Homo sapiens: one gene and its partner. The protein of the gene in region 1 interacts with the protein of each later gene in a pairwise test. Each region holds a gene or a part of one and is shown on either strand. Other genes may lie near its edges.

Region 1 (5,444 bases):
ATATCTCCAAATGCTATCCCTCCCCCCTCCCCCCACCCCACAACAGGCCCCGGTGTGTGATGTTCCCCTTCCTGTGTCCGTGTGTTCTCATTGTTCAATTCCCACCTATGAGGGAGAACATTTACTTATTTTTGATTTTGTAGCCAGAGCTTTTAGTGTGATATCCGAAACAATTTTTGCCAAGGCCAATGTCAAGGAGCTTTCTCCCTAGGTATTCTTCTAGTAATTTTAAAGTTTCAGGTCTTACATTGAGCTTTTACCCATTTTGAGTGGATTTTTGTGTATGGTGTAAGATATGGGTCCAATATCATTCTTTTTCTGTGATATCCAGTTTTCCCAGCACCATTTGTTAAAAAGACTATAATTTTGCTGTTGTGTCTTCTTTGTACCCTTGCTGAAAATTAGTTGACTGAATACATTCAGTTTTATTTATGGGTTCTTTATGCTGTTCCATTGGTCCATGTGTCAGTTTTTAAAGAGCATGGACTTTAAAGCAAGACTTTGAGTTCAAATCTCAGCTTCACGTGGGGAAAATTACTTCATTTCTCTTTCACTTATAATAACAACAAGAATAAATATATGTAGTTCATGACTACATATTAAATGAGTAAATACATATAAACAAATAGAAGATTGACTGGCAAATAGTATGTACTTTATAACTGCTTGTTGCTTATTGTTATCAGCCATTAATATTGTTTGTATTATCACAATAATTCTTATAATACCTTGTGTATAATAGGTGGTAAGATTTTAAATTAATGATATAAATTTTGCCTTTTCCACATATTTACTTTGTTTTTTAAGAAATTAATAATATCATTAATGATCATAGCAAATAAGGTCTAGCCATGCCATATTCCTTCCATGTCTCTGTTCAAGACTCTCTATTTGAGTGAGAGAGCAGGTAAAACACTGTAAATCAATCCTAATAATAGCACATCTGTTGGGAGTCACAGCAGAAGATTAGATAGGTGACCAGTAAACATTTTGTAAGGGCTGAGTGAATTTTATTTTTTCTGGCATGATGTGTTAAATATGGACCAAGCACAAAGGTGACCTGATTTTCCTTGCAATATTTGTTTAAGAAAACAACTATGTCCTATCCTTGGACCTTGAATATTCACGAGTTTTTCCAAACTGGAATACCTGAATTCCAGAAGCTTTCTGGTGTGTGATGTGTGTGTGTGTGTGTGGGTGGGTGGGTGGGTGTGGGGGTGTGTGTGTGTGTTTGAACAGATGTGAGACTGTGGAGTCCAGTGTGGGGAAATCTGGTCATGCATGTTTAGAGTCTCTGTCAACATCTATAATTTTGCAACGTATCTGTGTTTGTAGTTCTGGACATTTGTAGTTTGCCTGTGCCCAGAATTTGCTCTCAGGAATAATCTAGACTAACGTTAGCAATACATTTGGTCACTTAAATTTAATGCTAACTCTAGAGTTCCCATGGCTCTCAAGAGTCACTCTGTGGTCCCCTGGATTGGAACACTATGGCTTGGCTTTTCTCTGGTCCCAGTGTCATCCTAGAGGAGAAATTCTTAGTGTCAGACCATGAACCACTTTGAGAACCTGATGAAACTATGAGCACTGCCTTTAGGTAAATTTGTGTACTCTAACTCACACTAAATTTGTCATAGCGTTTCAAAGTTTCAGAGATCCCTGAGGTACCTTTGCAAACTCCTCTCAAAGAATCAGTTGCAATCAGTTGGCTTTATTGTGCAAGAATCAAAATATTGAATGTGGCATGAATGTAAAATGTAAGGAGAGAAGAGCTGAATCTGTGAAAATCACATTTTCTGTTGACTGAAGGCAGACAAATGGCTGAAGGAGAGTGTGAAGTAGTAATTTGGTTTCAGCAAGTCCTATAAAAAATAATGATAGTTTAGAAATTTATTCATAGTATGTTAACAGTTCTCATGATATATATTTATTTAGCTTCCACAATTTTTCTTTCATGTCTGTATCCAATAAGTCAATCAGATTACATATTTAAACTTAAATATTTAAAATAGGCATATAGTAAACTGAAAATAATAGACATTATGTAATATTTACAGAAAAAACTCTTTTACATGCTTCTTTATGTTTTGCATCAGTAAAATATGTAACTACTTATTAAATAACTTGCTTTCATGTTGTCTTTATTAATTTTCTTATTTTGTTCTCCAAAATATAATAAGCCAGCTGTTTAACCAGCTCTTGTTCTCTTTTTCTTAATGGATATCCTGTTGAACAGCAACTAAACAACACAATTTACCCATATGCTAGTCTAAGGAAATCACAGTGTATTTTCCCTGTTTTTCAGCAAGTTAGACAGCCCATATAAAAATAAATGACATAGTAATTAAACCCCACTATCTGAAATTAAACAGGTTTGGTTTGCCTCCCATTTGCAATTTCTAGCTGTGATAATTTACTTAATGTCCTCAGTCCTACTGGTTTTTATCCCTAAATTTGAGATAGGAATAATATCTGTTTCATATGGTTACTATGGGAATCAACAGACATAATTATGTACGGTTTTTATCATTTAGTGGAGACTTAGGATACTGGTATGAATTTTACTTTATCTTTTCCAATACATGACATTTTACAGATTGATCAGTTTTTAAAATCCTTTCCCATGTGCATTCTCTCTTGAGTCTTATAGCAACCAGAATTATGAGAAAATAAAAGTTCAGAGAAAGTAATGACCAGCCTATGGTCATTAGGCAAGCAGATGAAAGAAGCAACCTTTTCTGGGCTAATGGTAGTCCCATGATATCACAGACCATTGTCTGGTATTTTAGATCATAAAACATGTAGACATCTGATGGACTGAAAATATTTGTTGTAAAGAAACTCCACATTTTGCAACTTTCTCCCCAAATTATTTTACACTCTTTGGATATTTTCCACTTTATTAATCATTCTCTTTGTTTAAATTCTTCTCATAAGTTTCAAATTATTTTATATTCTGCCATTATCCATTGGTCCAAGTAATAAATAGTAACACTTTGCATCACATTGTGTTCTGAAAGTATCCTTTTAATATTTATGTGTTTTTCAAGTTAAGCATTATAATTCTTCCATGGGTTTATCTTAGAATAGGAGAAATTTGAGAGGCTTAACTTCATGAATCATTTTGGAAATGATGTCTGAAATAAAGAAATGCATGGAAGCATATCATTTCCTTTTACTCTGTTCATACTACAATGAGAGTGCAAGAGAATTGTTACAGAATTAAAATTTACTCAAACTCATATTCTATATAACTTCTTCTAAAAATTATTTTTGAAATATCATGAAAATGTTACTTGCTGTTTTACTCTACTGTCATAGTTTGTGTGTGAATAAGGATGAAATAAAACTATTACATTCTAAGAGTGTCCCAATTGTCAGAAAAAAGTTTGATAATGAAGTTGCCAATTATTTTCACTTTGTCAAATAAAATTATTTTAAATTTCTAGTTGGAACAGAATCTGGTGTATCAATGCTATGGGTTTACCAAGGTAAAACTGTAAGTACCCTGTTTTGTCTGCTTCTGTAACACACTTAGTTTATCTATTTGTACTATTTTAGAATTTATGGTTGTATTCATAAATCCATGCTTCTTGTCGGAATTACTCATTTTATATACTGTTAATTTACCTGCGTTGTGTTCTTTGATATTTCCTTGGTGTTTTTATGCCGTAGGTGGAGTAACTGCAACTGTGGTTGTCTCAGGGGTGCTCGTGATGATGGACTCTGAAAAAGCTTCTGGAGTGACTACACTGTCCACCGTTGGTTCAGTGGCAGGAGCTGGTGTAGGTTCAACAGTAGCAATGGTATTGATGGTAGGGATGATTATTTTATCCTGAATTTTCTTTGGGGGGATGGCAATAAATGATGGATGCAGGTTTGGGCGACGTACCACAGTGGGTGGGTGGCTATTTGGCAGGTATTGCCGCTGAGGAATTTGGGCATGTGGCCTAACTACAGCTGGGTTTGCATAATATGTGCGAGGCACATATGGATTATTAATTGCTATAGCTGGTCTACGTTGGTACAAATTGGTTCCATAATAAGGATAGCTATTTGGCACATAATACATTGGGACATATGGAGCTGTTTTCTGATAGAATGGTCTTTCATCATTCTCATGGCACTGCAAAAAAAATAAATTATACAGAATATTATTATTATAGACCCAAATGTGGAAATACCTTAAATCTGCATTTTTTGAAATAATATAGTATTTACCATTGAGTAAGATATTAGAAGTATGGAACCCAGCAGCAATATTATTTTATAAGATGTTGATTTGTACATTGCCTTTCCACTTTATGATTTTCAATATTATAAATATTATTTTGATAATATTAATATAATATTTGTTTCAAGAAATTAGATGAGTTTATTCATAATGTAAACCATATTGCCCAGAGATTGGCATATATGGAAAGTGATCTTATATGTTAGCTATTGTAGGTACAACACAGAGAAAAATCTCATTGAGAACTTTGACATGTTATACACAAGCACAACATGCAGACACACACAGAATGGCGCACACACACGTATGTATTCTCACCACATATTTGTAATTGGTCTCAAATTTTATTCATTTAAAAATTAGCCCAAGAGCACATTTATTTTTTCCTAAACTATAGCAGAATAGTAACATAATGTGATGTGGAGAGATTCCTGGATTTAGATTTTGGATTTTTTTTGGTTTAATTTTCTTCACAAAAGATTAGATAAAGAATTGTCTATATCTATGTGCCTCTGTTTAAAAATTTGTCAGTAGACCTTTCCATATGAATAGAAATAAATTGACAAAATTATACTACAAAGCAAACATTTCTCCTAAAACGAGACACATTTAAATGTATTCAAACATATTTGGGAAACGAAAGGGGAAGTAAATATAGATGTATGAGAAGTATTCAAAGATGGGTCAGAAAAGGATCTTCCCTTGTCTTAAAAAGTGGAAAGGGGAAATATTAAGCTTTACTTATGTTTTCATTTTTTTCCAATATGAAATGTTGAAAGAGTTTTCTCATATTGCTAAATATACATGAAAACCAAAGATACATGATTTGGGTTATATAAGAAAATAAAACTTTCAGATGAACATCAATGTTGATTCATATCACCTGTTGCTGAAATTATTTTCTTGCAAATATTATTAGATTGTTTTATGGAAATGAAATATTTAGGTTTTAGACAGAAGGCATCTATAATACAATTGACCTTTGCAGAATATATTTTGTAGTTCATGCCTGTAACAGAAGTAATTAAAATAGACTTACTGCTGGTTGTTTCTGGTTTTGAACCTCCACAGCCTGGGGAGTTCCAGAAGAAGAAATAATGAGAAATAAGTTAAAAAAGAAAAAAAAAGTACTTAAATCAGTTAAAAAAATCTTTTGTGTTAAAGACAAAATATGTTTTCTTTTTATTTTTTAAAACATTTTTCATGAGTG
Region 2 (3,500 bases), on another chromosome or scaffold:
AAAGCATCAGCAAGCTACGGCCAGCAGAGTGGGTACTGCTTCAAGGTAGAAAACAAAATGTTGAGAAGAGTTGTCTGAAGAAAAAACTTAGCCTACTATTTCCTCAAACAACCAGAGACTACAATGGAGAGAGGCAGTGGGGAGAACAGCTGACTGACAAGGGCCTCATATCCCATTACAGAGAGGTGACCATACGCCCCAGTTTGCCTGGAACAGTCCTAGTGCATTTATTAATAGCACATTCTTCCACTTTTAAAATGCTGGGTTTGAATAATACATTTTATACTCATCCTAATTAAAGATAAGTCTCTTACAATTTTAGGGCTTCCAGCAGACAGAGACAAAAATGCCTCAGTCAAAAGCTTCAGAGGAGAAGTCAGAGAAGCCTTTCAGGAAAGTGTGGTTCTGGTCTCTGAAGGAGAGCTCTACCCTGAGCAGAGGGAAAATCTGTTGTGAGTGAGTGTGTGTTTGCATATGTGTGTGTGTAAGTGCACACTGCAACACTACAGAGTGGGCAAAGAACAGCCAGGAAGACTGACAGAATAAAGAAATACGTAAGAAGGATAGATATAAGGAAAGAGTGGCTCTCTCAGGTCAGGTGTGGTCACTTGCTTTTTATTCATTTGTTTGACCATTAATTCTCAGTGGAAGACTGAGGCACGGGAACTAACTGGGTCCAAGGAGTAAACACAACCCTAGCTAGAGTTCTAAGTTCTTCCATCCCATGGAGACTGCACTGGAGGGGCAAGACCTGGAGTGGGAAGTCTGCAAACAGAGAGTTTCAGGCTTCAAAAGCATTCTAGAGAAGTTGCGTTCTCAAGAAGATGAAGCCAACAAGAACCCACATGTCACAGACAGCTCTTGACAAGAAACCTTTCCAGAAGGGACCCCCACACACTGTCATATGGAAAGTGCTTACTGATGAGATTAAGGGGACTCCTTAGTCATCATCAGGAAACAGACAACTTAAAATGAAATCAATAAACAACTTATCTGTAAACTTAGGAGCAGAAATATATTCTGAGAGTGTGTTGAAATAAAGGAGGGCAATGTTGCAATGACAGTGCTTCAGGAGGACAGTGACAATCATGGAGTCCAGAAAACGCCAAATGAACAGTAGGAACAAGGCAGTATTTGCCTTGTTCAAGGTGCTGTCCAAGGAAGACACGAATGCTATCTGGCTGCCTGAGAACACTGGCAAGAAAGGAAAAGTGTCCCTGGCCTGCAGGCCTTGCCCTAAACACTTTATTCTGACTCCACACCTACCTTGATTTTAAGTACCTTCAGTGTAAGGATAGAATTGCCAGATAAAATACAGGATGCCCAGGTAAATCTGAATTTCAGATAAACAATACTTTTTTTTTTTTTTTTAGAACTTGGTATTATTATTTTAGTATTTTATAGTATTTAACACCCCCTACTTTTTTTTTAGATGGGGTCTTGCTGTTGTCTAGGCTGACCTCAAACTTATGGCCTCAAGAGATCCTCCCATCTGAACCTCCCAAGTAGCTGAGACTACAGGTGCATGCCACCAAGCCCAGCTTAATCCCACATTTATATATGTCTATCCCTTATAAGGGGTATATGTATGTCCCTAGTATGTGGTATACATACGTCCCTACAACATTTGGGATGTATGTATCCTACAAGAGTATTCATTGTTACGTCCAATTCAAATTTAACTACATGTCCTATATTTTCAATTCTGGCATCCCCTAGTGGGGATTAGGGCATGAGATCTCTGCTTGGGTGTTCCTCTCTGAATCAGGAAGAGTATCTTTTTTTTTTTTTTTTTTTAAGAGATGGGATCTTGCTCTGTCACCCAGGCTGGTGTGCAGTGGTGCAGTGATAGTTCACTGAACCCTCAAACTCCTGGGTTTCAGTGATCCTTCTGCCTCAGCCTCCTGAATAGCTGGGACTAAAGGTGCATGCTGCTGCACCCAGATTATTATTTTTATTATTTTTTTTAGAGACAAGAGTCTTGCTATGTTGCCCAGGCTGGTCTCCAACTCCCGGCCTCAAGTGATCTTTCCATCTCAGCCTTCTGAGTGCTGGGATTATAGACATGAGCCACTATGCCTGGCTTAAAAGAGCATCTTGTACATGGCAGATGCTTAGTAGTTTGAATGTTTGAATATACTTGAATTAAGATGATAAACTGCTTCTAGAAAGCACTAAAAAACTGTGACAGGGGATATCTGAAAAGCAGGGAGTCATAACTAACACTGTGTTCATTCCAGAAATATTTATCAACTGCTTATTACATATTAGGAATTCTGTCTTTGAGAGGTATTGGTTCCTATGACTGGGATTGTCTGACTTGTAGCATTTTATTTTAGAGTTCCCTTTTCATCAAGCACCACAGGAGATTCTAATGCAGAGCAAATTGTGGTGGTGGGCAAGGGTAAGCAGGCGGGAGGGCAAGGTGATGGTGGGACTCTTAGAAATGGACACTCCTTTCCAGAGGCTGAGGGACAGGGCAGGATCCTGAGGTCCCCAGAAATACTTACCTTTGACAGCTTGCTGGACGTAGGCTGTTGTCCCATCACTAAGGGTCACCGTGTGCAGCCCCAAGCTCTCCATGGCAAACTGCTGCTCGTGCACTCAGACATGAAGTTGGCTTCTGGCCAGCACCAAGAGCCACAGCTGAGGTCAGAGATTTCCTTCTGGGTCACAAATCTAAGAAAATAAACAGTATCACATTATGAGTTAACCAGCTTTCTCCTATCGCAAAGACACTCAGGGAAGGAGTTAATGAGGCCAGCCAGCCAAGAAGAAAAAAGATGAATTCTTCAAAGTAGTGAACTATATTGGTTTTTATGAAAAGGGCTCAAAATACACATTATCTAAGAATTCTAAAAGTTAAGCATAGAAGAGAAGCATGCCAATCAAACTGGTCATAAAGTAAGAAATCACTGATCAAAACCCATTTCTAAACTTTCTCCCCTTAGGAAGGAGCCCTGCTGAAGGCAGGCAGTTAACCCCACTGCTGATGGTTCTCTCTGCCTACTCCAACATCTCTCCTGTGCTCGGACCCATTTATCTACTGAGCTTGTTAACCATCCTCAGGGAACATCCCACATGTACCACACGTGGAATAAGTCCTCAACAGAACTCACAATGTGTCCCAACCTTCCAGAACTATTGTACTTCCAGTATCCCCTATCCCAGGGGTGGTATCGCCTTCCACCCAGAACTTCAGGGCGGGGGGGGGGGGGATCATGCTTGAGTCCTCCTTTTCCCTTAAAAGTCCAGGTACTTATTTCAGGCATGTCTCACCTTTCACCTCTGGACAACTATAAGGAGCCTTATAACTTATGTCCTCAGATAAACTTTTGTCTGTTTCCAATTCATTTTCTTTTCTTTCCTTTTTTAGAGACAAAGTATCACTCTGTCGCCCAGCTGGAGTGCAGTGGCTCCATCACAGTTCACTGTAACCTCGAACTCCTGGGCTCAAGTGATCTTCCTGCCTCAGCCTCTTCCAACTCATGTTCTAACAT

What was found. The genes of interacting proteins can lie anywhere in the genome.
Region 2: the proteins of CSN3 (region 1) and ZNF76 interact in binary tests that used the Homo sapiens proteins (3 or more experiments, as listed by UniProt).

Annotation. Positions count from the first base shown.
Region 1 is NC_000004.12:70,247,680-70,253,123, reverse strand, and holds the end of CSN3 (kappa-casein precursor), read right to left. Parts: intron 5,307-5,444; coding exon 5,274-5,306; intron 4,127-5,273; coding exon 3,665-4,126; 3' UTR 3,631-3,664; intron 1,863-3,630; 3' UTR 1,692-1,862; downstream 1-1,691. UniProt on the Homo sapiens protein: Kappa-casein stabilizes micelle formation, preventing casein precipitation in milk.
Region 2 is NC_000006.12:35,280,235-35,283,734, reverse strand, and holds part of ZNF76 (zinc finger protein 76), read right to left. Parts: intron 2,680-3,500; 5' UTR 2,584-2,679; coding exon 2,511-2,583; intron 1-2,510. UniProt on the Homo sapiens protein: May be involved in transcriptional regulation.